Homo sapiens: one gene and its partners. The protein of the gene in region 4 interacts with the protein of the main gene of each other region in a pairwise test. Each region holds a gene or a part of one and is shown on either strand. Other genes may lie near its edges.

The links.
Region 1: the proteins of PM20D2 (region 4) and EPDR1 interact in binary tests that used the Homo sapiens proteins (3 or more experiments, as listed by UniProt).
Region 2: the proteins of PM20D2 (region 4) and RGS12 interact in binary tests that used the Homo sapiens proteins (3 or more experiments, as listed by UniProt).
Region 3: the proteins of PM20D2 (region 4) and DNAJC11 interact in binary tests that used the Homo sapiens proteins (3 or more experiments, as listed by UniProt).

The regions. Positions count from the first base shown.
Region 1 is NC_000007.14:37,944,624-37,951,648, reverse strand, and holds part of EPDR1 (mammalian ependymin-related protein 1 isoform 1 precursor), read right to left. Parts: intron 2,810-7,025; coding exon 2,601-2,809; intron 1,450-2,600; coding exon 1,253-1,449; 3' UTR 1-1,252. UniProt on the Homo sapiens protein: Binds anionic lipids and gangliosides at acidic pH.
Region 2 is NC_000004.12:3,310,000-3,317,024, reverse strand, and holds part of RGS12 (regulator of G-protein signaling 12), read right to left. Parts: intron 2,215-7,025; exon of another isoform or gene 2,076-2,214; intron 956-2,075; 5' UTR 855-955; coding exon 1-854. UniProt on the Homo sapiens protein: Regulates G protein-coupled receptor signaling cascades. Inhibits signal transduction by increasing the GTPase activity of G protein alpha subunits, thereby driving them into their inactive GDP-bound form.
Region 3 is NC_000001.11:6,691,793-6,698,817, forward strand, and holds part of DNAJC11 (dnaJ homolog subfamily C member 11), read right to left. Parts: intron 1-7,025.
Region 4 is NC_000006.12:89,141,579-89,149,060, reverse strand, and holds the start of PM20D2 (xaa-Arg dipeptidase), read right to left. Parts: upstream 3,007-7,482; 5' UTR 2,917-3,006; coding exon 2,452-2,916; exon of another isoform or gene 2,195-2,451; intron 537-2,194; exon of another isoform or gene 1-536. UniProt on the Homo sapiens protein: Catalyzes the peptide bond hydrolysis in dipeptides having basic amino acids lysine, ornithine or arginine at C-terminus. Postulated to function in a metabolite repair mechanism by eliminating alternate dipeptide by-products formed during carnosine synthesis.

The DNA of each region.
Region 1 (7,025 bases), on a different chromosome or scaffold from region 4:
AACTCAACCACATTCAACACATAAGGAAACCAGGGACAAGAGAGGCTGGCATTCTTCACTCTACGAATACTTAGGGCACTGACTATGTGCCAGGCACTTGCTTTGTGCTAGGGATATAAAAGTAAACATACAAGGTACCCGTACCCAAGGAGCTCACAGCCAAGATAATGGATGAGTGTCCTGAAAGCAGAAATTATCACACAGCTTAATAATTATTGTGAGAAATGCATGCTCAAGATGCAAGGTGCAACTCATCCAGGCTTGGGAGCAACTCTTGTGAATGAGCTGACCTGGAAGGAGATGCAGAAGTCAGACAGAGAGGTTATGAAGCAGTGTTCTAGGAAGGCCAAAGTGCGGGCAAGCCCAGTGCATTTAATGACCAAAGGAGTGACAGTACGAGGGAACTCTAGTCCTGGGTTTAGGAGACAATAGTCTCCTGACTCCCTGTTCAGTGCTATTTTAGAATACTGCCTGTGTATTGACAAGTCTGTGAAGATTCAGCACATACATCAATACTCTTGCATAGAAAAAAAAGAAGCTTACATGGCTCGTGCTATGCCAGTGTAGACATTAGGATTCTCTAAACTGCCTTGCTCAAAATGTTTCTTTAGAGGAATAATTACTTCCTATTTTAGCTTTTCATTTCCTTCTAAATGTTTATATCAATTGGGCCATGCCATAAAATTCTTAAGTCTGGAAGGGATTTAAGTTATCATTTTTTTGGCAACCAAGGGAGTGCAGGGACAGGGTGGAGTAGGGCTCAGTGGGAGCAATGCCAACCCTGGTGCAGCAATAAAGGGGGCATTCTCTGCAGGGAATTTAAGAATTAATAATAAAATTGACCAAAATCACTCTGCTTTTTATTATCACTAATTCTGAATAATGTCAACAATAAATACTTGCTGCCAAGGCAAACTTCTCTTACTGACCCTTCCCTATGTGCATGGCACTGCATTATGTGTATACCCGTGCATGCAGAAAACCAGCCCTGAACAGGCATTAGAAATACCCAAAGTGTCCATATTAGCCATCTAGTCAGTTCATATGGCCACACCCTCGCCATTCAATTTTCTTCTGTAAACAGAGCTTGAGTAGTCAAAATCAGACACATCAAAACCCCACATCAATGTGCATCTTCCTAAAATTATATTTCTCTCCAATTAGCATTCACATCTTGACTAGTCTCATATCCATCTCCAGCTGGGGCCGCAGGGGGCTGACATCCGATGCTGCCGCTTCCCTATGCACAGGCTCACCAGGAGCAGTCTTCGCTCATCTTCTCCAGTTGGGCCATCTGGCACGTGCTTGGAGGGGTAAACACCGAGGGGTCTTTAATACCCAGCTGGATGTCAAAAAACCGCGTAGACAATATCACACTGTAGTTTATGGTAAAGGTTTCCTGGACAGGATAGCAATCCTTGACTGTATAGATGCCAATCCAGGTTTCATCTATAAGAGGAAAAAAGTTGACTTTTAAATAAAGAAGACAGGCAAGAAGTTCATATTTTTTCTTATGGTGGTAAAATGTACATAACATAAAATTTACCATTTTACCATTTTTAAGTGTTTGGTGGCCTTGAGTACATTCACATTTGTTGACCATCAGCACCATCCATCTCCAGAACTTTTTTCATCTTCCCAAACTGAAACTCTGTCTCCATTAAACACGAACTTCCCATTCCTCCTCTCCCAGCTCCTGGAACTCATCATTCGATTTTCTGTCTCTATGAATTTGACGACTCTACATACCTCATGTAAGTGGGATTGTACTGTATTTGTCATTTTCTGCCTGCATTGTTTCTCTTAACATTATGTCCTCAAGGTTTACTCAGGCTGTAGCATGTGCTGGTGTTTCCTTCCTTTTTAAGGCTGAATAATATTCTGTTGTATGACTATACCAGATTTTGTTTATCCATTTATCTGTTGATGAACATTTGGGTTTCCACCTTTTGGCAATTGTGAATAATGCTGCTGTGGACATGGGTGTACAAATATCTGTTTGAGTCTCTGCGTTCAATTCTTTGGGGCATATATATATATACAGAAGTGGAGTTGCTGGGTCATATGGCAGTCTTATCTTTAATTTTTTGAGAAATCACCATACTGTGTTCCACAGCATGAATGCCTGTGTGGTAAAAACTGTCTTGGGATAGGCGTATATCAGCAGCAGGGCAGAGAATGGCTTCACATAAAAGTAGGCTGGTTTGCACACTCAGCATGATGGGAGTAGATTTGACCCCTGCAACTTTAGGAAGTGGGGGAAAGAAAAGGAGGCACCCAATTCAAATGTGTGCCTTAGACAGATGCCTTCCATGTCACAGACCTCGGGACGACCATAAAATGTCAAAATCAAGGCTAAGTTCACAGGAGCCAAAGTGGCAGAGAGGTGCAGGTGGCACTAGAAGGCTGAGGTGTTTCAAATATGAAGCTTAGATCCCGTTGCCACATAGTGAGCAAAGTAACCTGCAGACCTAAGTGGAGGCTTTAAAAAATTTTTGATTAAGCGGATGTTTCCCTAAAAACTACCTTCCTTAAAGGACTTAAACCTTTTTCCCCATCATGCATGCTGAATACAATGCTTAGATTCTTTGAACCCTTACAGGATCTAGCTGACTTTCTGTCCGACCACTCCTGGACGGTGATCTGCTCCTGAGGCCCCCCGATGGAGTACTGGTCTTCAAAGGTGGAGTTTTGAGGAATGTCAAGAGGATCCCAGGGCTGTGTCAGGGTCATCTTTGAGCACTGCTTGGTGGCTTGGTCAATCTGAAACATCACTCCATCCTTATACAGCAAAATATATTCAAATAATCTGAAACACAGATGGAAAGAAGTAGTTTGGGACTTCATGTTACCATCCTCGTGCCTTTTAACAGCACAAACACCTTTGATAGATATTACTTTTAAAATAGAAAGAAATTACTAGCTAGGCAATCACTTAACGTTTATAAACACTAGGCACATGAAACAACCTGCATATGAAATAATTAGAATTCACAGGTCAGACCGAGCATGATGGCTCATCCCTGTAATCCCAGCACTTTGGGAGGCCGAGGATGGAGTACGTTTTGAGCCCAGGAGTTTGAGACCGGCCTGGGCAACATAGTGAGACCCCTGTCTCTAGAAAAAAAATTTTAAAAATTAGCCAGACATGGCAGTGCACAGCTGTAGTCCCAGCTACTTGGGAGGTTGAAGTAAGAGGATCACTTGAGCCTGGGAGTTCAAAGCTTCAGTGAGCCATGATCATGCCACCGCACTACATACAGCCTGGGTGAGATCCCGTCCACCATCAAAAAAAAAAAAAAAAAATTGAGGTCAAAAGTGTATATTCACTGGGCAAATTTTGACCAAGGACCTAGTATATGCCAGACCCTGTGCTTAGCATACAAACATGGGGAAGATATGGCTCCGGCTGAAGAGCTGGTTTGTGAACTTTTGTTTACCCACAGAGACACAGGAGGACTTGACTCTTGTGTGGTGCATTTTCTCTCACAGCACTCAGTCAAGGAATTATGGGGGTATACTGAACATAGGACAAGAACACACTGAGGACTGGATGGACCGAGTGCCTGTGCTTCACTGCCTCCACTGCCGAGCAGTCATGAGTAAGGGGCTTTGATGCGCATAGCTGATCCGGCACGGGCGCAGCCCACATACCCTGCAGTGGCTGAGATGAGAGCAAAGACAAAAGCTGAGGCGACCCCAGAGCAAATGACTCCCTTAGCTGAGTTTCTCTCCATGCTCTCAGCCTCCTCCCGTGACCACCTGCTCACCCTTCCTGGGGAGTGACAGGGAGATATTCAGAGGCTGAGCCCAGGAGTCACCAGCCATGCAGTATTGGCATCAGTCCTGTATCTTCCTTAAAGCTGAGACATCTTGGTGTTGGGGGAAGCCTGCTGTGTTTCTATGCATTTCACTGTCAATCTAAAACTCAGGCCACAGCTGCTGGTCAAGAAAATGTGTCTTGCAGCCATGACCTCAGAAAGTGAAATCTGCAACACTTGAGGGCTGAAGAGCCTAGAGAAGTGACTTGTCATCAGCAAATAAAAATAGCCAACAAATTATCTGTGGCTTATGAGACCCAATGCACTAGAGGAGACTTCAGGGAAGACATTTGCTCTCCAGCCCAAGCCCGAGCTTAAAAACTATTTTCTTCGGAAAAAAATGTTAGAAATGGTTACTGTCTTTATAGTCAAAACACAGTCGTGCGTCACTTCATGATAGGCTTATGTTCTGAGAAATGTGTCATTAGGCTATTTCATCACTGCACGAACATCATAGAGTGCAGTTACACAAATCTGGATGGTACAGCCTACTACACAACAGGGCTACACAGTATGGCCTACTGCTCCCAGGGTACAAACCTGTACTGCATGTGACTGCACTAAATACTGGAGGCAACTGTAACACAATGGTAAGCATTTATGTATCTAAACATAGAAAAGGTGCAGTAAAAATATGGGATAAAATATAAAAAATGGTACGCATGTATAGGGTACTTGCCATGAATGGAGCCTGCAGGACTCGAAGTTGCTCTGGGTAGGTGAGTGAGTGAGTGAGTGGTGACAGAATGTGAAGGCCTAGGACATTTCTATACACTTCTGTAGGCTTTATAAACATTGTACACTTAGGCTACACTAAATTTATAAAAACTATGTTCCTTTCTTCAATAATACATTAATTTTAGCTTCCTGTAACTTTTTAACTTTATATACATTTTGATTTTTTAAACTTTTTGACTCTTTTGTAGTAAGACAGCTTAAAACACAAATTGCACAGCTATACAAAAATATTTTCTTTATGTCCTTATTTGATATGCTTTTTTCTATTTTAAAATTTATTTTATTAAAAAAAAAACTTTGTGTTAAAAATTACAACACAAACACAGATATTAGCCAGGCCTACACAAGGTTAGGATCATAAGTATCACCCTCTTTCACTCCCACATCTTGTCCCACTGGAAGGCTGTCAGGGCCAGTAACATGCATGGAGCTGTCACCTCCTATAATAACAATGTTTTCTTCTGGATACCTCCTGAAGGACCTGCCTGAGGCAGTTTCACAGTTACCTTTTATGTAAGTGGGAGCACACTCTAAAATAACGATAAAAGTATAATATAGTAATTACATACATGTGGCCAACAAACATAGGAAAAAAAGCCCAACATCACTGATCATTAGAAAAATGCACATCAAAAACACAAAAAGACACCATCTCATGCCAGTCAGAATGGCTATTAATAAAAAGTCAGAAAACAACAGATGCTGGCGAGGTTGTGGAGAAAAAGGAACACTTTTACACTGTTGATGGGAGTATAAATTAGTTCAACCATTGTGGAAGACAGCGTGGCAATTCCTCAAAGACCTAGAACCAGAAATACCATCAACCCACCAATCCCATTACTGTGTATATACCCCAAGGAATATAAATCATTCTATTCTAAAGATACATGCATACCTGTGTTCATTGCAGCACTATTCACAATAGCAAAGACGTGGAATCAACCTAAATGCCATCAATGATAGACTGAAAATGTGGATAAAGAAAATGGGGTACATATACACAATGGAATACTATGCAGCCATAAAAAGGAACAAGATCATGTCCTTTGCAGGGACATGGATGGAGTTGGAAGCCATTATCCTCAGCAAATTAACACAGAAACGGAAAAGCAAATACTGCATGTTCTCACTTATAAGCGGGAGCTGAATGATGAGAACAAATGGACGCGTCGGGGAAGCAACACACACTGGGGCCTGTTGGTGGAGCTTGGGGGAGGGGGAGCATCAGTAAGAATAGCTAATGGATGCTGGGCTTAATACCTAGGTGATGGGATGATCCGTGCAGCAAGATACCATGGCACACGTTCACTTGTGTAACAAATCTGCACATCCTGCACATGTACCCCTGACTTAGAATAAAAGTTGAAGAAAAAAAAGTATAATACAGTAATTACTTATATGCTAGAATTGTGTACAACTGACAGCACAGTAAGTTTGTTTACACCACCACCACCCCAGACATGTGAGTAATGCACTGCGCTACCACATACTATGGCTATGAGGTCACTAGGCAATGGAAGTTTTTCAGCTCCATTGTAATCTCATGGGACCACCACTTCATTGACTGAAACGTCATTATGAAGCACATCATTGTATTATTAGTAGCCGTATGCTTCAGGTTTCTATGAGGTAGTATGGAAATATAAACATGACATCATTTTACACCTTTATGTGTATCTTGTTTATTTCAGAAAAGATTTGAAACGGCTTACAAGGGTAAAAATAACCCAGACACATACCTTTAGAAATGAGAATGAATATAGAAAGAAATATAAGTGTGCATTTTATGAGATATTGCTCAAAAATGGAGCTAATTTTTTATAATATGCATGCAGGGTCAACGTAAAACTGTTAGCCCTTTGAAAAAGTTTGGGTTTGGATTGTCACTGTTTTCTCATAACCAGCTAAATCTCTGACACAATAGAGCCTAAGCACTGATTGAAGAAACACAGCAACATTAACCCAACTCTTAGAGCATTGTTCATTTGTAAATATGGGAATTGTTGTCCATACACAAATCCTGTCCTGTGATACTTTTAATGACCCGTGGGCCACCCAAAAAACAAGTTGTCTTCATTGTTCTCCTCACCACCAGCAATATCTTGTGCTTTCCCCAGTGCTAGATATCTGGGCTAGAAAGGCATTCCTAGCTTTTGCTGATATCCCTGTTGTGTGCTTCTCAGACTGCAATAGTTGTTCCCTGGAGAATATGTAGCCATGTGCAGGAGAGGGGGTTTCCTTCTTGAAATCATCGCCATCACTCCCCAAATCCACAGGATCACAGAAGTGTCATTAATATGGTTTGGCTGTGTCCCCACCTAAATCTCATCTTGAATTGTAGCTCCCATAATTCTCATGTGTCATGGGAGGGACCTGGGGGGAGGTAATTGAATAATGGGCACGGTTCTTTCCCATGCTTTTCTTCTGGTAGTGAATAAGTCTCACAAGGTCTGATGGTTTTATAAA
Region 2 (7,025 bases), on a different chromosome or scaffold from region 4:
GTGCTCAGCTGCACACAGTCGTGCATGATCTTCATGGTCACCAGCGAGTGGATTTTCTGCTCTGCCCGCAGGCGCCGCATGCAGCCGCGGATGGCTTGCAAGCTGTCGGACTCCAGGTTGGAGCTCGTGGAAGGAAGCTCAATGGAGCCTAAGTAGCCCACGATCATCGCCACGTTTAAAATACTTGCATCCAATGCAAAATCGTCATGACTTTCTAGTCCAATGCTGAAAACCGAATCATCATGAATAACTTTTGATATTTCCTCCTTAGAAAGCATGTTGGGATTTGGATTATTTATACTTTCATGTCCAACATCAAATCGAGTTGCGGCCGACTCTGAAAGGGATCTTTGTTTCAATTTCAAGGGCTCTGAATTGCTCGCACAAAGGCTCGGGTTTTCAAAAATCATATTGAAAATTCCACCAGACTGCATTTCCTCCACGACTCGCTCTGCTCTGTTTATACCTAGTGCTTTAGAATCCAGCTTGGGCTTCAGCCAGCCTTTTCCTTCATAGAGTCCCCCTTCTTCATCACTGGAACAGGATTCGAAGCGGCCGACGCCTTCAGCAATCACCATGTGAAGGACACCAGAGCACTTCCCAATTAATTTCACTACATCTTCATGAGATGCTTTTTTCACGTTGATTTCATTGACAGCAAGTATCTGGTCTCCAGCTCGGAGGCCCACGAAATCCGCAGGGCTCCCTCTCATGACGCAGCTGAGCACACAGGGTGCCTGTCCCGAAAGCGTGAATCCGTAGCCGGCCCTCCCCCGGGCAACCTCCACACTCCGCACCCTTGGGGGCGACGGCCCAGGCAATGGGCGTTTGGAGGCCTCCCCAGCTCTAAACATTCTGATGAGCTTCCAAGACCAAGAGCACGTCTCATTGTTCCCTTGGAGCCATATTTCAAGGAATGCTTGATGCTACCATGTTTGCTTCTTCAAACAGTGCCCTAAGAAAGAAAAACGAACAGCTCATTATTAAAGAGCCCATCTTTCTCCACCACTCACTGGTATTAGCTAAACACAAAAAGATAATTCATAATAAAAACCACCACAGAAAGAGCCTCTAAGTGTCTATAGATAATAAATCTTCAAGTCAGGCTAAGAAACTTCCTTTCGGAGTAGAAAATGTCTCCCACAACTGCTACCTTGTTACCACACAAGTTCCTGCCAGGCCCACCTGCCACGGGTGTGAGGATGCAGGACTGCTTCCCAGCACTGCTTCCACACCCTGTTTGGATGGAAAGAGCCCCTTGCTACTCAAAGTGTGGTCCGTGGACTGGCAGCCCGTCTGAAAGGCAGACTCTCGGGCTCCACACAGAAGAAACACACCCAAACCCACGTTTCACAGGATGGCAGAGTCCAAGCGTGAGAAGCAAGGCCTGCTACAGGCTTCAGGTTCAAAGGCACCTGCAGAACACTGAGTCTAACCCCTTAGTTGATCATAAATCCCCTGACATAGAGTTTTCCCTCAGGAGAGGGGTCACCTAATATTCCATGACCCTCCCACATTAATTTATTTTGAATATACTGTGTGGGGGAAAACGTATTAGCCTGAAACAACCTCGATCAATACTGCAGAGGCCACTCAACAGGCTAGATAAAAACCACCACCTAAAAAAGCAGAAATGTCATATTAACTCAATTCTTCCAGGGGGTATAAAAGTATTGGTTGTCATTGAGAACAAACTTGTCAGTGGTCCGCGGATCACCCCCAGGCCAGTGATTCCCTAGGATTCCCAGGACTTGGCACAAAGGTGCTCTCACAGCTGAGATTCATTACAGCGAAAGGATTCCACACAAAATCAGCAAGGGCAGAGGTCCATGGGGCGATGTCCCAAAGAAACCAGGCTTGAGCTTCCAGAATCCTCTCCCAGCGGGGTCACGCAGGACGCACTTAACTCCCTACACAGTGAGCCGTGACAACGCATGTGCAGTGTCGTCACCAGGGAAGCCCACTAGAGACTCGGTGCCAGGGTTTTTACTGGGGGCTGGGCACATGGGCACCCTCTGCCTGCTTCGTGCCCAGACTCTGGACTCCCAGAAGAAAGGAAGGTTCTCAGCACAAACCTTGTTCCCCACACAAGCAGCTAAGCACAGGGAGCCCCTCTTCATTGAGGGTGGTGGGCACCGTCCTGACACCAGCGGGGGGCCAGCCTTGCACACAGGCCTCTCAGGATGGTCTCGGGCCTGCTGTGTAGTCTCTTCTGCAAGACTCTTTAAAGATCACTTTAAAAAGCAATACAGTAAGTGATTGTGTTGTGAAGACACAAAATAGAATAGAGGGTATGTTTTTTTAAAGAAATAATTGTTTTAGGCCAGGTGCGGTGGCTCACGCCTATAATCCCAGCGCTTTGGGAGGCCGAGGCAGGTGGACCACGAGGTCAGGAGATCAAGACCATCCTGGCTAACACGGTGAAACCTTGTCTCTACCAAAAATACAAAAAAAATTAGCTGGGCATGGTGGCGGACGCCCGTAGTCCCAGCTACTCGGGAGGCTGAGGCAGGAGAATGGCATGAACTCGGGAGGTGGAGCTTGCAGTGAGCCGAGATCGTGCCACTGCACTCCAGCCTGGGTGACAAAGCGAGACTCTGTCTCAAAAAATAAAATAAAATAAAATAAATAATTGTTTTAAAGTTAATAACTTCTAATAGAAAAGATTTTTGTGTCTTGGGATAAAGTTTCCAGCAATAGGATCATAAACAGATTTGAAGTAATTTACACACATAAAAGCTACAGAACTAGATAGAGTGGAAAGGCTATTACTAGGTGACTCCAAAAGTGGCTTCAGTGATGACAAAACACGGACACAGAACATGCGTACTTAGTAAAATTATGTTTTGATGGAAAAGAGTAAAAAATGAATATAAATTACATTACTCAATATCTAAGTAGTACTGTATTAATAATTTAAATATTAGGACTGGGCATTTAACTATTTAAAATCATTAAAAAATGAATTTAAAAAATAAAATAATTAAAATTATTTTATAATTTTTTAATAATTAAAAATTATTAAAAATCATCATTAAAAAATAAATAAATAAATGTAAAAGTTGGCCAAGAAACACGTCTGGGGATCGATCTTCTTAAGAGGTGTGACAGGCTGGCTGATGGCCCCTGATACACCCACATCCTCACTCCCAAGCTTTTGGATGGCTCCTCCCATCCACGTGACCACGTGAAGGCTCTAGAGATGGGGAGAGTGTGGGGTGCGCCTGTGTGAGCCTGGGGTCAGAGCCAGAGGGGACGGCCACATGAGGAAGGATGCGGAGACTGCAGGGATTCAAGGATGGGTCTCGAGCCCAGGCAGACGGGCAGGCGGTCACCTCCAGAAGCCGGAAAGGTGAAGGAAGCAGACTTAAAGTCACCAGAGGAACCAGCTCTGCCACACCTGCCATCAGCCAGGTCACACTGACTGCAGACACGAGGCCCCCGAAAACGCAGGAGAATGAATGTGTGTTGTCTTAAGCCCCCCAGTTTGCAGTAATTTCTTTCAGCAACCCCAGGAAACAAATACAAGGGGGAATCACTTTGTCACGGGTGAGGGGAGAGGGAAAGCAGGACATGCGTGAAACGGTCTCACTAAAGCACGCTCAGAAAAGCATCTGTCACACAACAAAGGTGCTGCTGTTCCCGGCAAGTGCCAGCTATCACTGTGAACAGCCCCAGGACAGCAGGTCATGAAGCCTTGATGGCTTCCTCGGGGAACAGAACACCTCTCGGCTTTCTCTTCCAAACAGGAATAGATGCTGCCTCAATGAAAGACATGACTTCCCAGTTTATTCGCACCATCCGCCTCACACTGTGTGACATAATGATGGACAATGTCTTCTATGCAGTCCACCCAATTTTTCTACTAGACTCTTACTGTCATGGGCCTCTGCTTATTAAAAAGAAATGGTTTGTAACTCATGTAAGTAATATCTTATTATCTATAATCACGTTTCTTTGTTTTTATTTTTTAGAGACAGGGTCTCACTCCATTGCCCAGACTGGAGTGCAGTGGCACAGTCATTGCTCGGTGCAGCCTCAAACTCACTCCTGGGCTCAAGCCATACCAAGCACACCCCCATACTCGGCTAACTATTTTTTTTTTTTTGGAGAAAACTGTATTGAGATATTTTAAGTCACGTATCTAATATAAAACCAGTTTGCATTGTTTCAGCTTGTCTTCCTTGGAACCTGTGGTTGCCCTTCACCTCCTTCTGGCAATTTAAATTGCTCTGATTTCGGCAGAATATTCCCCGGACATCAGGACCATCTCCACATTCATCCCAGTCTTTGAGACAGCTCCCGGAGATCAGCTTCCTGGTCAAGCACAAGAATCTCAGCAGCACCGTGATCTTCCTCTCTCTCCTGGCCAGGTAAGACCCCGACTTTCAGGTGGTGGTTCCTCTTGCTGAGGCTGCTCATCACTGGGCTCAAGCACAGGCCCAGTTAGCTCAGGAGGCTGCACATACCGTCTTGGTCTAAGCCTACATGCTGATCTTCCTTGCCAACTCATATTTCAAACGGCTGCTTCTCAGTAGTGGGTAAAGAGTCCAGAACGCAGGAACGCAACCCTCACACCCTCACAGGTCCACAGTGTTCACCACGTGGGCAAAGGGGCCAAGGAGAAGACACCCAGTGAACCTTGGCTAATGTTTTAATTTTTCTGTAGACGAGGTCTCACTATGTTGCCCAGACTAGTCTCAAACTTCTGACCTCAAGCAATCCTCCCACCTTGGCCTCCCAAAATAATCACATAAGTTCAGCTTATAGTTTAATTTTTTTTAAAACTGTATCAATTAATAGTAAAGCTAGCAGAACAGACAGTGAAATTTAGAAGACCATGGGGTACTGGATTCCAGCTGAACTTCCATTACACCATCGGGGCTACCAGTAAGAACGCCTGCTCCCAAGCCCCTGCACCTCCCAGGGACTCTGACTTAGTAAGTCTGGGGCAAGGCCAGGAAGCTCCAACTTCCCCCTACACACCTTCCAGCTAACTCTGAATCACCTTGACTGGAGATCATTTAACCCAGCCTCTTCACTGTGTGGAAAAGGGAACAAGGTCCAGCCAGAAGTAATTCATCCAAGCCCTGAGGCACAGATGGGATGTGACACGAAGGTCCCCACTCGCCGCACAGCACTGCCACCTCCCATCAGGAGTCACCGACCACGTCACACAGGCTGAGTGTCCCTTAGAAGAGATTTTTGGGACCAGAAGGGCTGTGGATTTTTTCTGATTCGGAACATCTGTATATACGTAATGAGATATGTTTGGATAGGACCCAGGTCTGAACAGGAAATTCATTTATGTTTCATATACACCTTATACACACAGCCTGAGGGTAATTTTGTGCGGTACTTTTGATAATTTTGTGCATGAAACAAGGTTTGTGTACACTGACCCATGAGAAAGCAAAGGTGTCACTAGCTCAGCTATGCCTGAGGTGCCACATCGGTGTCAGAGGGTTTCCGATTCTGGAGCATCTGGATAAGGGATGCTCAACCCGCACTGTCACTCCTTCACTCATTCATCATTAAAAACTCATGGTGTAAAGAGGACAATAAAACAAAACAAAGAAAAAAAACTCAGGGTGATCTAGAAATAAATATTGCTGCCATGACACTTTTCTATTCCCTTCTAAAGTTAAAACCTCCTATAAAAGGTCCTGTTCTGATAAACTCCTCCACTCATGCCGGGCAGCACCCAAGACCTGCAGGTACAGAGATGGGTCCTAGGCCTGAGCTACGATGCAGCAGGCCCCGAGCGAGGCAGGGCTGGAAAGACCAAGCCAGCACCCGTCCGCACTGCCCGTGCACACAGTGTGAGGCGAGAGAGACGCCGTCCTCCGAAGGCAGAGAGAGTCTGGGGGCACCGAGAAGAAGAGAGCAAGGCACAAGAACAGCACAACATCAGCAATCACGGCCTCCAGGGTGACCCCACGGGCTGCAATGGCAGCCGCCACGGCCAGGACTTGCTGTGCAGCGCATGTCATCCTAAACACCATCATCGCTCTGAGGAAGGCTCTGTTACAATTCTCGCGTGCAGATGAGGGAGTGGGGGCACAGAGAAGCTAAGTAACTTGTCTACCAGCACACAGCCAATTAACGGCAAAGGTGGATTTGAACCCAGGCTATTCTTGGCTTACCCACACTTACGTGGATGCACAGAGGAAGGGCCTGAGACAGCAAGACACCACGCCACCTTCTCCACCTGGGACCTGCCCCCGCAGGCGCCTGCCCACCTCACACCCTCCCATAGTCATCATGTCCCAGCAGCCTCCCCCCACCACCACCTCACAGTGCCCACAGCTGCCGAACACCCACCTGGCACCCCCCTCCCACCTCATCAGGGACACACACACCAGACGATCTGATACCCGCCCCATGCAGACCCGCACTGGCCATCCCTGCATCCAGCCACCTCCCATCATTCACCTGAGAGGCCCTCCAAGTCCCTGGCCACTCTTCCCAGACCTTCCCTGGACCCAGAGCAGCATGGACCTGCCCGCCCTGGACACAGCAGGACACGGTGCCAAAGGGAGTGAGCTGGCAGATTCTGGAATCACCAAGGCCACTTCCAGGCCATTTTACTGAGCCACCAGTCAATACCTCTCCACACTTCCCTTCTTGGGGTGCAGCGTGGACTGGAGACAGCCCTTGCCTTGGCCTTCCAGGCCCCAGCTCCTCTCCCGCCCGGTTCCCCTCAGAGGACACCTGCCATTTCCCGGGTCCCAGCTCCTCCCCGACACGGTTCCCCTCAGAGGACACCTGCCATTTCCCGGGTCCCAGCTCCTCCCCCACACGGTTCCCCTCAGCGGACACCTGCCATTCCCGGGTCCCAGCTCCTCCTCAACACAGTTCCCCTCAGCAGACACCTGCCATTCCCAGGCCCCAGCTCCTCTCCTGCTCAGCTCTCCTCAGAGGACACCTGCCATTTCCCGGGTCCCAGCTCCTCCCCCACACGGTTCCCCTCAGAGGACACCTGCCATTTCCCGGGTCCCAGCTCCTCCCCCACACGGTTCCCC
Region 3 (7,025 bases), on a different chromosome or scaffold from region 4:
AAGCTCCTTCCAGGGACTGCAATCTGTACCAGGCATATGCTGTAACAGTGGTAATAATGCAGCAATGTTCTCAATTGTCTTCTTTTTAAGAAATGTGTGACTCCTTTAAAAAATATATGCTATTTTATTTTTTCATCTGTTGTCTTACATCCTTTCTTAAACAAAGGTGTAAGTAAGTAAAATTAAAATGAAAGGTTAATAAAAAGCAGACAATAAAATTCTACAGCCAAGCAAAGCATGTTGCTCTCATGTCCCGTTTTCCATTGTTTTATTACTAAATTCACAGCAAATACAAAAGTTTTCCATTGAATTCTCTTTAAGAAAGAAAATAAAAGAGGTGTTTTGGTAGATAATGCAAAATTAGAGCATTAACATTTCAAGAAGCAATTGTTTGAAATGCCCAAAGCAGAAAATAACTGGCTTATAGATCATTAAAGAAACACATTGTGAAATGTAACCTCACGTTTGCCAATCACATTATGAGATGACATTGGAAGTGGTGGGGCATCCTCAACAGCCCCCTCCCTGCACACAGGCAGCTTCTCTAAACTCCACTTCCCGGGCACCCTCTTGGGCCCACCCCTGCCCCCAGCTCTGCCTCCTCTCTGCTTGGCTCACAACTATCCTATCTTTACCCCAAACACCCAAAAAATGTTATCCTTGAGCCTGCACCCTACTCCCATACTTAGCCCCAACTTCCAGGAAAGCTCCCTATCCCCATGTCAACTTTCCAGGAAGCACAAGTTCAGAGAGATCACTGTCTTTTAAAAAGAACAAACTCAGTGTTTTGAACAGAAAGTAAAAAATGCTTCAGGAATTTTTTTTTTTTTTTTTTGAGATGGAGTTTTGCTCTTGTTGCCCAAGATGGAGTGCAATGGCACGATCTTGGCTCACTGCAGCCTCTGCCTCCCGGGTTCAAGTGAATCTCCTGCCTCAGCCTCCCATGTAGCTGAGATTACAGGCATTTGCCACCACGCCTGGCTAATTTTTGTATTTTTAGTAGAGATGGGGTTTCTCCATGTTGGTCACGCTGGTCTCAAACTCCCGACTTCAGGTGATCTGCCCGCCTCAGCCTCCCAAAGTGCTGGGATTACAGGCATGAGCCACTGCGCCCAGCCTCTTTTTTTTTCTTTGACAGAGTCTTGCTCTGTTGCCCAGGCTGGAGTCCAGTGGCACAATCTTGGCTCACTGCAACCTCCGCCTCCTGGGTTTGAGCAATTCTCCTGTCTCAACCTCCCAAGTAGCTGGGATTACAGGCGAGCATCACCACACCCGGCTAATTTTTTTTTTTCGTATTTTTAGTACAGACAGGGTTTCGCCATGTTAATAAGGCTGGTCTCAAACTCCTGACCTCAGGTGATCTGCCCGCCTCCGCCTCCCAAAGCGTTGGGACTGTAAGGCGTGAGCCACCACACCCAACCTCAGGAATTTCATAAACTAATGCTTAGCATACATTCTAGCACTATGATTTTTAGTAATATTACAAGTGGATAGCAAAGTTCATCCTTAGCCAGGATGAAGCATACCAAGTATGTCTTTCACATTTTTAAATTTATTTATGTACATGTATGTCTTTCACATTTTTATTTATTGTTATATTATCGTTTAGATGGATTCTTGCTCTGTCGCTCAGGCTGGAGTGCAGTGGTGGTGCGATCTTGCTTCACTGCAAACTCCATCTCCCGGGTTCAACCAATTCTCTTGCCTCAGCCTCCCGAGTAGCTGGGATTACAGACGCCCACCACCACACCCAGCTAGTTTTTGTATTTTTAGTAGAGACAGGGTTTCACCATGTTGGCCAGGCTGATCTCGAACTCCTGACCTCGTGATTCACCCGCCTCAGCCTCCCAAAGTGCTGGGATTACAGGCATGAGCCACCACGCCCAGCCTTTTATTTATTATTATTTTTATAGACGGAGTCTCGCTTTTTATAGACAAAGTCTCGCTCTGTCGCCCAGCCTAGAGTGTGGTGGTGTGACTGCAGCTCACTGCAGCCCCAAACTTCTAGGTTCAAGCAATCCTCCTGTAACCAAGTACCCCCATTTTTTTTTTTTTTTTTTTTTTGGAGACAGAGTCTCGCTCTGTTGCCCAGGCTGGAGCACAGTGGTGCGATCTCTGCTCACGGCAACCTCCACCTCCCAGCAGAGATTCTCCTGCTTCAGCCTTATGAGTAGCTGGGATTACAGGCGCCCGCCATCAAGTCTGGCTAAGTTTTGTATTTTTAGTAGAGATGGGGTTTCACCATGCTGGCCAGGTGGGTCTTGAACTCCTGACCTCAAGTGATCCGCTGGCCTCAGCCTCCCAAAGTGCTGGGATTCACAGGCATGAGCTACCATGCCCAGCCCCATTTTTTCTAAGAGATAGTTTAATTATTTTCTCCTCTCCCCCTTTCCCCGGTACCCTGCTTCCTACTTAGCCCTTTAGAAATGCAAATATAACCTTTCCCCTCCCCCTCACCAGACATCTTCTATGGGGCAAGTTCAGCTAACTACGTGCTCCAAGACGGATCTCTTGACAGTGGATTTGCAGACCAAATCATGTCCCCATGGCCACTTTTACTTCTTTCTGCCCAGGAAGATGCCAACTCAATTGCCAGTTAGATAAAGTACCCAGATAGCAGGGGGACCCCTGCCCTTGCTCATTTCCTCCTATACCTTATAAAAGTGCCTGCTTTCTGCTCTAAAAGTGAAGCGGTACAGCAGGACATCGTGCCCCTTCCCCAAGCTGACTTCAGAGTAAATTCACTGGCTTTGTATGCGCCTCACTCTTGTTAACTGGACTCTGCATGCGGTAAACAACTGACCTGCTTTTCGGCTGCACCTCCACCTTAGGCTGGACTACAGGTTACAGCTCATGCCACCATGCCCAGCTAATTAAAAAAAATTTTTTTTGGCTGGGCGCGGTGGCTCACACCTATAATCGCAGCACTTTGGGAGGCTGAGGCGGGCGGATCACAAGGTCAGGAGATCGAGACCATCCTGGCTAACACGGTGAAACCCCGTCTCTACTAAAAATACAAAAAAAAAAAAAAAATTATCCAGGCATGGTGGTGGGGGCCTGTAGCCCCAGCTACTCAGGAGGCTGAGGCAGGAGAATGGCGTGAACCCGGGAGGCGGAGCTTGCAATAAGCCGAGATCGCACCACTGCACTCCAGCCTGGGCAACAAAGCGAGACTCCGAATCAAAAAAAAAAAAAAAAAAAAAATCAGCTGGGCGTGGTGGCAGGTGCCTGTAGTCCCGGCTACTCGGGAGGCTGAGGCAGGAGAATGGCGTGAACCCAGATGGCAGAGCTTGCAATGAGCCGAGATTGTGCCACTGCGCTCCAGCCTGGGTGACAGAGCGAGACTCTCTCAAAAAAAAAAAAAAAAAAATTTTTTTTTTTAATTAAAGATGGAGTCTTGCTACGTTATGCCAACCCAGGCTGGTCTCAAACTCCTGGACTTAAGTTATCCTCCTGCCTTAGCCTCCTAAGGTGCTGGAATTACAGGTGTGAGCCACCCCCCAATCCTTATGTCTTTTTTTAAAGTAAGCAAAACTTCAAACTTATCAAAATCCAAGAAATAACAATATATATTAACTAAATACCTACTTATGACAGGCAATTTATATACATTCTCAGCACCTAGCAACGCACATACCACACAGGTCATCCTGGCCTACAGTAAGTGCTTAAGCCATTATTACCTGTTACCTACATTCTAACATTAAAGAAACTGATGGCCAGGTGCAGTGGCTCATGCCTGTAATCCCAGCACTTTGGGAGGCCGAGGCGGATGGATCACGACGTCAGGAGTTTGAGACCAGTCTGGCCAACATAGTGAAACCCTATCTCTACTAAAAAAAAAAAAAAAAAAAAAAAAAAAAAAATTAGCCGGGTGTACTGGTGTGTGCCTGTAATCCCAGCTACTTGGGAGGCTGAGGCAGGAGAATTGCATGAACCTAGGAGGTGGAGGTTGCAGTGAGCTGAGATTGCGCCATTGCACTCCAGCCAGGGTGACAGTGTGAGACTCCATCTCAAAAAAAAAAAAAGAAATTGAGAAACAGAAAGGTTAAATTACTAGCGTTGAAGCATAGAACTTCCAGAAGAGTAAAATGGGATTTGAATACTGGACTCCAGCTGCAAAGCCCTACATAGTGGCCTCCCTCTATCCCATTGTTAACTAAGAAGTACTGGTGCCTCCATTCTGCAGGTAAGTAGAGGCTGAGGTTAAATGACTCGTTGAAGGTCACACAAGAGGCAGGCAGCATGGGCTGAAATTCTTGCTTCTCAGCCTCTTGGCTTACAGAACACCCTATGGAATGCAGACATCTGAATAAGTTGTTTTTGGACAACCGAGGCTTAATTCTATGTGCCTGAGGCACACATTTAACTGGAGTCATTATAAATATCAAACTTTAACATAATGTAGTAGATGGAAAATGAAGGAACTGACCTTTTCAGAGCCATCTTTATTTTTTATTAAGACAAAATTAACTGCCCATCATGAAGTTTGATAAGAAAGCAATAAATGTGTAAACACACACCACCTCACTGCTTTAGGTATTTGAGTCGCTCAAATTGGCACAGTTGAGCCTTTTACATGTCAATTTCTGCAGATGGCTGAGTCAGTGGTCCTGATTGGAGGGTCTGCTGTCTCCTTCTTTGTGGGTGACTTTGACCCTAGGACAATCTTGCCAGTGACCAGGGGACCTTCCTCTACTCTTCTAGCCCTTCCTTTCCATCTGCAGCTCAAACTCAACTGTTGGGCCTCACTCTGTGGCTGTAACCTGCAGCTAAGGAAACCCCAACAACACACAATTGTGAAAATAATGATCTACCCTGTACCAGAGAAGGAATGAAAATGCAGGGACTTGGGGTAAACTTTTTACTGGTAGGTGATACTTTTGTACTTCTAGTTTCATGGCTGTTCTGGAAGGATGAAGATCTCAGAACACTGACCTCCATATATGGACTGCAAGAAAAAAACTATTTATTAACAACTTCATTTTTTACTTAACTGTGTTTTTCCAAAAGTGTTTAAAAGTTGAAAAGGAGGATGGCTCCTTAAGGTTAAAACAATTGGGACCAGAGGTCTTCAAACAGGTTACAAACACTGCAAAAATGAAATTCTTTCAAAGACAATGATAAAGTTAGAACTGTAGCCATTTGTCTTGGGAATAAATTAGGTTTGAAATGTGTCAATTAAATTTCCTAATTAATGGATCAGGTAAATTTAACTCTGATTTATAGTTAAGGAATCCTTTCTCCAAATAAATTTTGGAAAATCATCCTGGAAATCTCAGAGGAGTGAGATTTTAGGAACCAGATGATGCATCTAACACTAAACCAGAAAACCTGTCTGGCTTTGGTGTGCCCAGTGAGTGATAAAGTACTCCCTCCTCTCAGTGTGAGGCAGGCACGACAGATGATGGCCCTGCTCTGTAAACAGGAAATCTAGAAGGAGAATCATTAAAGATCATGTGTCTTGTCATAGGAGAACGGGGGGTCCTTTCCAGCTGCCTGCTTCACTCTCTCCAACGGCGGCAACAATGGGGTCTCCAACCTTTTAGCACCACGGACTGGTTTCATGGAAGATAATTTTTCCACAGACTAGTGGGAGTGGAATGAAACTGTTCCACCTGGGATCATCAGGCATTAGTCAAATTCTCATAAAGAGGACCTAACCTAGATCCCTTGCATGTGCAGTTCCCAATAGGGTTCATGCTCCTATGAGAAGCTAATGCCACCACCAATCTGACAGGCAGAGCTCAGGCGGTGATGCTTGCTTGCCCGATGCTAACCGCTTGCTTGCCCGACGCTAACCGCTTGCTTGCCCACCACTCACCTCCTGCTGTGCGGCCCAATTCCTAACAAGCCACAGACCAGTACTGGTCCATGGCCAGGGGGTTGAGGACCCCTGCTCTAGAATACAAATTTAAGGGGATATTTTAAAGTTTAAATCCTGGAGAGGGAGATTCTTCAGCTGATTGTTGACATTTCTATATTAATCCAATTATATACCTCTATTATGCTTATAATTTTTTTTTTTTTGAGACAGAGTCTTGCTCTGTCACCCAGGCTGGAGTGCAGTGGCGCAATCTCGGCTCACTGCAAGCTCCGCCTCCTGGGTTCACACCATTCTCCTGCCTCAGCCTCCTACAGGCGCCCGCCACCACGCCCGGCTAATTTTTTGTATTTTTAGTACAGACGGGGTTTCACCGTGTTAGTCAGGATGGTCTCCATCTCCTGACCTCGTGATCCGCCCGTCTTGGCCTCCCAAAGTGCTGGGATTACAGGCTTGAGCCACGCGCCCAGCCTATGCTTATAATTTTAAAGTAGGATTCCCTGGTTTTGTCTAGAATTGTTTCCATTTGAGATTTCTAAAGAAAACTCTCTGAACTCTACTGAACATTGAGAGTTTTGAGGACACTCTTTTGAAGGTACTTTGAAGTATCAGTGGGAACAGGGCCTTGCCTCTCACAGCTATACTTAAATGGCAACTACTCTAGAACTGACAGCAAACACACAAACAGGTATTAAGATATTCTTCCAACCACACATTAAGATTTAAGATTACTCTGACTTTTTTCCAACTAAATCACGTTATTTCAACTTCACGTTTGATTTCACACAAAAAATTCCAGCAAATATCAAGTTCAGACATCACCTTCAGAGCTTCTAATGGAATCCCGGGATGGAAAACCAGCACACCACACCTGAGTATGACATTTAACACCGAGTTTGCTGACGAAGACAACAGAAAGTGACTTCTGCAAGGGAGCATGTTTCATATGGATTTAACCTATAGCCATATAGCCATAAATATGGAAAGTGCCTTCACTCATTGGGAGAAGTAAAAAAAAAAAAAAAATTTAAGAAATATTTTTTGGCTGGGTGCAGTGGCTCATGCCTGTAATCCCAGCACTTTGGGAGGCTGAGATGGGTGGACTGCTTGAGCTCAGGAGTTTGAGACCAGCCTGGGCAACACAGTGAGACCCTGTCTCTACAAAAACTACAAAAATCAGCCAGCTGTGGTGGTGTGTGCC
Region 4 (7,482 bases):
CAAAGTATGTACTAAAGACACTATAAAAAGCTTTTCCCAATTTTACAAGTCAACTAATGGCAAAGATAAAAAAAAATACTACAAGTTTAGTCCCTCAAAATTTGTTAGGATTTGTTTCAAAAAGGTTCCTCTCGACTAAGCCTTTCAGTGTATGTATGTATATAATTATTCTTAAGTACTTTACGAGTCAGAAACTTTCTGTTAACTTACTACTTATCCTCACAACAACCCTGTGAGGTAGGTGGGTGATCTCTATCATCATTTTACAGGGGGTGTTTTTGAGGAATTGAGTGAAGTGTCTTGCCCCAGGTCACAGAGCAAGTCTTCAGGCAGAATTAGGATTAGATGTCCTGATCTTCTGGCCTAAACTCTGATTCCTTACTGGGCTACCTATTTTAAAAGTCTGAACTCATTAATCCTTTATGAAGAACATTAAACAAGTCTTAATGCCACAGTTAGAAACAGCCAACTATTACACAAACTTACTAATTCGATTCCACCAGTTCAACCAGGCAGATTTATTGGTCACCAAACACCTAATTAAACAAAAGAGAACTTTACAGAATAAACATTTTACTTTGATATTTAAGCTTAACTGCTTCAAACAATTTTAAAAATCAAAATAAACAACTAATATATTTTCAAGATCATGTATAAGAACACAATGAAACAAGCTGGAAAAGTCTTGGCTTGCAAAGGAAATCAACTTAAATTCCATTTTCAGATAATTAATAACTTAACCTTGCTAAAATTGAGAACAACCATTTGAAGTTAGAAGAGTGGGCCGGGAGCGGTGACTCATGCCTGTAATCCTAGCACTGTGGGAGGCCGAGGTGGGCGAATCACCCGAGATCCGGAGTTCGATACCAGCCAGGCCAACATGGCGAAATCCTGTCTCTACTAAAAAATGCAAAAATTAGCTGGGCGTGGTGGCACACACCTGTAATCCCAGCTCAGGAGGCTGAAGCACGAGGATCGCCTGAACCCGGGAGGCGGAGGTTGTAGTGAGCCGAGATAGGACCACTGCACTCGGCCTGGGCGACAGAATGAGACTGTCTCAAAAAAAAAAAAAAAAAAAAAAGAGTGTACATTTCTCAAAGTTTAGCTTTTTTTTGGCGGTTCTACAGTGCTCAAACTCTGACATGAAGCCGCCGCTCTTTTTTTTTTTAAGAGGAGGCCTCGCTCTGTTGCCCAGGATGGAGTGCAGTGGCGCGATGTCGGCTCACTGCAACCTCTGCCTCCTGGGTTCAAGCGATTCTCCTGCCTCAGCCTCCCGAGTAGCTGGGATTACAGGCGTGAGCCACCACGCCCAGCTAATTTTTTTTTTTTTAATATATTTTAGTAGAGACAGAGGTTTCACCATGTTGGCCAGGCGGGTCTCGAACTCCAGACCTCAACTGATCTGCCCACCGCTCTTCATTCTTGACCCTTAACTCATTAAATACGATATGTCTCTCGCTGACTACTCAGAACCTTTAAAAACGTGGTTGAAGCGAAATCTCTCCAGTGTTTGTGACATGGCAAAGCATGCTTCCCCCAACCCAAACAAAAACCTAACAAATGCAAAAACGAGCCTCCAGAGACAGAAAAAAGAAGGCAGCTAAAGTGAAAAAGCCACAAAAGATGTAGTGTTAGGATAAAAGAGGAAGGTTACTGACACTGGGGGAAATGAACTAAAGAGTATGAAAATAAAACATTTGTTTTCCCCTTAACTGAATGACGATTGAATCTTAGCTCATAGTGTAGAATATACCATCTGGAAAAGCAGAGTAAAACAGGATTAAACTTGCCCTACGACAAACATAAACGACATTTCCCTGTTTAAAGAGTCGAGGTATTTCTTAAAATCATAAAACAAAAAAATTAAGACTTAAGGATGAACTCATCTATGTATAATGCTCATTCACTTCCCCTTTATTTGTATACTTCTAGGGGTCTGGTGGTTCTAGCGACTGAAAATTCCTATCCAAATACCAATGACTTGAATCACATTTTCTAGGACTGCCACAAACAAAAGATTTATTTGGAGACGAATAAAAAGGGGCCGTAGGATTACCTACAAGAAGTTATTTCCTCCTGAGATTGATGGCACAACCTTGTCAGCAAATTGCTGTTGCCTCTCTCAGTTACCAAAAATAACCCGTAACAAACACCAGGCTTGGGTGTAAGTTCTTTCCTAAGGGAACAACTCAGCAGAGCTGTTTATAACTAGAGAGGAGGAAACAATAATCTGCAAGATGTCGCCAGGTCGGCAACGCGAACTGACTTTGACTGGGGGTTCAGCTCTGCTCCTGCGCCGAGGCGAGGACCGCAGGTTTAGCGCGGTCCCACACACACCTGCCCCGGGCGGGAGGGCACCGAGGCGCGCGGGACGCACGAGAGTCCCGCCCTTCCCGGGTCGCCCCCGACCCGGGCAGTCGGATAGGGTCCCGCACCCGGGCCCCACCTCACCTTCACGGGCGGAGGCGGCCTGGGGAGGCCCTCTAAGGCCCCCCTCACGCCCAGCGCGGCCGCCGCCCCGACCTCAGCGATGAGGTTGTGGCCGCAGGCGTGGCCGATGCCGGGCAGCGCGTCGTACTCGCAGAGGAAGCCCAGGTGCAGCGGGCGTGGCGTGGCGCTCGGTGCCCGGGCCTCCGGCGGCTCCCACTCGGCGCGGAAGGCCGTGGGCAGCTGGTAGTGCGGCTGCACTGCCCAGGAGGCCGCGGGCGGCTCCCGCTCGAAGAAGTGCGTCAGCACGCGGTGGGCATGGTGCTCCTCGTAGGCCAGCTCGGGCTGGCTCCAGATCGCGCGGCTCAGGGCCCCCAGCCGCTCGGCCGCCTCGTCGATGCACTCCGCCGAGCGCAGCTTCAGTAGCTCCAGCTCGGAGCGGCCATTGCACGCGCCCCCTTCCACGGGCCGCTCCCCTCCGGGCCTCATGCTGCCCAAGCCCGCTGCCCTCTGCGCCCTCTCGCTCCCTGGCTCGGCCGCAGGTAGCGACCGCCCGCGCACGCGCCCAGAGGCCTCCAGGACCCCGGCGGAGCGCGCACGCGGCCACACAGCTCCCAGGGCACCACCCCCAGTCCCGGGGCCGCCCCCGGCGCCGCGCGGGAAACGCTGGCGGCCGCTCGTACCCTACCAGGCGCTCTGCCCCGCCGTGGGGTTTTGGGGGTGCTGTGGAGAAGGCAGGGCTCGGGACTCTTCCACCTCCTTGGCTGCTCTGGCCTTTGAGTTATGCTCTAAGATTATCGATTACTTTTCCGTTGTTGCTTATTTCCCACAGCAGCAGAATGAGAACGGTTATTAGTTAATAGCCATCAGAGACAGACCAAGTGGAACACAGTCCTCGGAAAAACGCCACTCTGTAGCATTAGTAATTAAAACCTCACAAGGTTTGTATTTCCTGAAGGAGGCCGTCAGTGTCAATGCTGTACTAACGACGGTACTGTACGTAAGTTTCGGTACTGCCCCCACTTTCTTCTCCTTGACATTGTATTACTAAAAGCTGCAGCTACTCTCTACAGTTTTCTCATTGGTTACTAATGTCTGGAACAGCAGCTAGATTATGCAGTAAGCTCTTGGTATGTATTAGCTATTATATAATAATTTATTTGAATAGAGTAGAACTAAAAATTTGAAATGAGTTAAAACCAAAGAGTTAAAAGATTTATGGTAGTAAATATTCATACTGTTTTGTTGATTTGGACAGTTGTCTTGAACAGCTTTGAAAGGGAACATATGACAGGTTTCGTTTATAATTTTAATTGATGCTGAACTCCACTAACATGATATGTGCAGCTGGTGTTACATTATAACTGAGTTTTTTAATTACCCAGTGAAGAAATTCAAGATGTCATGCTCTTGTTTTTCTCCAGAGTGAACCACAAAGTCTGAAAAACTGTTGTTGACGGTATGCCTATTAATAACACTGTAGATGTTTATATTCTGAGGTTTTCCACATATTAAAAGCTTCTATCAGCTCTTCATACCCTATCATCTTTCCTTAATTTGTCTCAACTATGTTAAATGGGACACAATATATTAATGTGATAAACCAAATGAATATTTTGAAAATAAGTCTAAGGGAAGCTAACATGCACGAAGACTATCAACTACTGTTTTTACTACTCTATATGCTAATAATACCAGAGTAAATGTCACATTCCATTCACGTCTGAAAACTTTCTTTCTCAGTTAACACTCCAACAAAAACTCAGCTCTAAAAACAACAAATGTGTTATTAAATTCCTGGGCCCCCTTGGCGATAATAAATCTTTCTCTGGTATTCTGCTGAAGAAAATTACCCTGTATCCACGAGATCCAATATTATCCTGCTCAGTTAGTTGGCTAAAAAAAGGGGAGAAGGGGGGATTGGAGAGCAAAAGCAATAGGTGACATTTGTAGAGCAATTACTCTGTGCTAGGCACTGTTCCAAGGGCTTAGCATTTGTTAACTCATTTAATCCTCACAGCAAACTATGAGGTGGTTAATGTGGTTATTTATCTTCATTTTACAGATGTATGTCCAAGATTATAGAGCTAGTAAGTAGTGGACCCACTGTAGAACAGAAGCCAGAGTCAGCCTCCAGTGGCTGACTTTCAGCCACCATGGTCTATTGCTTGTGTAAACAGACATGCAAATTCATAAATGCATCTCCAGTTTATCTATTCAAATCAGAACCCACAACACTCATTTTGAATAAATTTTACTGCAGCAACTCTGCCTGCTGACATCAGTAGAACCCATGTTTGCCCTCCTCAGGCATCAATAAACAGCAACAGAAAAGGGATGCATATAATTTCATATAGAAGCTGCTATTTATATTGCTTTGCAGGAATTAACAAAGCTGCCACTTGAGGTAGAGGAAAGACAGATTCATTTCAAGCTCTGTTCCTTGTGTATATATGTGGGTGGGTGGGTGGGTATACATGCCCACAGGCACGTATGTATTCAGTTTCTACTGTTGACACCTTGTATTTCTTGCTCATGGTATTTTGCACCCTTGAATTCATTTATTTGATAAACTGTGATAACTTGCTGACCGTTTATCTTCCCCTCCAGGCTTTAAACTCTTTTGTTTTCCCACTGCATTCCCCAGCACCTAACATCTTATGGTCAGCATTTCCTCTGTGTTAATAAATATTTGTTGGCTGATTATTCTTCTTGAATCTAATAAACTAACTGAATAATGGCAGCAATTAACCATTAAACGACACTGACTACCAATAGACATTGTTATGCTTCTTCCTAGACTTCTCAGTCCTTTATGTGGAGCTGGGGGCAGGAAGAATTGCTTCTGGAAGCTGATGGAGTTGGACATGTGGCTTTCTAGAATCTGGTCAGCTCATAAATTCTTACTATTACTTTCATTTGTACCCATAATATTCATACAACTGTCTACCCTATCTATGTGCTACTGGTAAGGAACCTGTATGTTTTTATTAGAAACAAAAAAAAATGTATACAAGCTCCCTTCCTTTAGCTGGTGCTGGATCTGAGGAAACAATACAATATCCAGAATTTAGTATTAAGATGTATAACCTTTTTGGGGGGGTGAGAGGAGTGCAGATAGTTCTCTCTTGAGGACTGGTTTTAAAGTATATAAATGTTCTTTCTTGGCTCCTGATGAGAAAAAAGGGGAAAAAATATATAAAGATTCCTCTTCTTTCCTGGCTGCTTAGAAAACCAGCTGTCATCACAACTGACTCAATAACTTTGAGAACAGGACATTCATGACAAATGAGTGCTGTGGTGGAAAGAGTAGATCAAAAATTTCCTTTACCCTGGAAAAGCAACTAAAATACAGCCAAATTGTACAACTATACTGGGTATTATTTTGGGCTTCAGATTCAGAACTCCTTTTGAAAAGGCAGCAGGCTTTTGTATGGTTTATATTCTTTGAATTAAGATAGAAATAATAAAATAAAATCCCCAACATGGCAAAGCATGAGCTCATGGCAAAGCATGAGCTAAATGAGAAAAAAAAGTTTTTGAAAACAGAAAAAGGAATGGAATGAAAAATAAAATGAAGAAAATTAAAGGTAGAGAAAAAGTAAATAGAAGTACCAGAGAGCTTCAGTGCAGGATTTCAGGAATGAAAAGCAAACAAACAAAAATAATTGTGGGGGGCCGGGCGCGGTGGCGCACACCTGTAATCCCAGCACTCTGGGAGGCCGAGGTGGGTGGTTCACGAGGTCAGGAGATGGAGACCATCCTGGCTAACATGGTGAAACCCCGTCTCTACTAAAAAATACAAAAAATTAGCCGGGCGTGGTGGCACGCACCTGTAGTCCCAGCTATTCGGGAGGCTGAGGCAGGAGAATGGCGTGAACCCGGGAGGTGGAGCTTGCAGTGAGCCGAGATCGCGTCACTGCACTCCAGCCTGGGTGACAGAGCGAGACTCCGTCTCAAAAAATAATAATAATAATAATAATTGTGGGGGAAAGGAATAAAAAGTGCAAAAATGATTTAATCCAAGGAGAGAGTGCAGATATTTCACCAAAAAAATCAAACTTATAATACCTTCAAAATATATGATATTTCCAAAAGTGCATGTGAATCCAGCCTACATCGTTTCAGTTTAACAATACTTGGAACTACAGCAATTTTCTCCTGAACAAAATGCTGGCCACTGCACGATTTGAGGACTGCTGCTGCCAGCATGGAGAAGAAGCAAATCACAGTGTCACTTTGGTATACTGGTCATTTACAACATTCTCCTAAGCATCCCCAGACACACATGCAAACTTGGTTAACTCCAGAAACTTCTCTAGCTGAAACAAACACGTAACACGCACTAGATAGCACATGTAAAATCAATCTGGGCTAAGGTGTTGGAAGAGCTGGTTGTCATATGGCAGAAAGCAGACAACTAAGAGAGTAGGTGAGCAGAAAGGTGAATTTGATTGGGGATGAAGGGACATAGAGGAAGTGTACAACACATTGCTAAGGAATTACAACTTTAGCTGGTTTTGGTGGCTCATGCCTGTAATCCCAGCACTTTAAGAGGCTGAGGTGGGAGGATAGCTTGAGCCCAGGGGTTCAAAACCAGCCAGGACAATATAGGGAGACCCTGACTCTACAAAAAATAAAATAAAATAAAATAAATAGTAAATAAGCCAAGCATGGTGGCACACATTTGTGGTCCCAGCTCCTCTGGAGGCTGAGGTTTGAGGATCGCTTGAGCCCGGGAGGTCAAAGCTACAGTAAGCATGATTGCACCACTGCACTCCAGTCTGGGCAACAGAGTGAGACTTTTGTCTCAAAGTAAAATAAAACTTGGACAATGGCTAAACTATTGGATGTTATTAAGCAGGAGAGAGACAAGATCAGAAATTTGTTCTACAAGAATAATTGATGACTATTTGGAAGATGAATTGGAAACAGACTTAGGTCTGAGATAAGTTAAAAGCTTTTGCAGGCCAGGCGTGGTGGCTCACGCTTGTAATCCCAGCACTTTGGGAGGCCGAGATGGGCGAATCACTTGAGGTCAGGAGTTTGAGACCA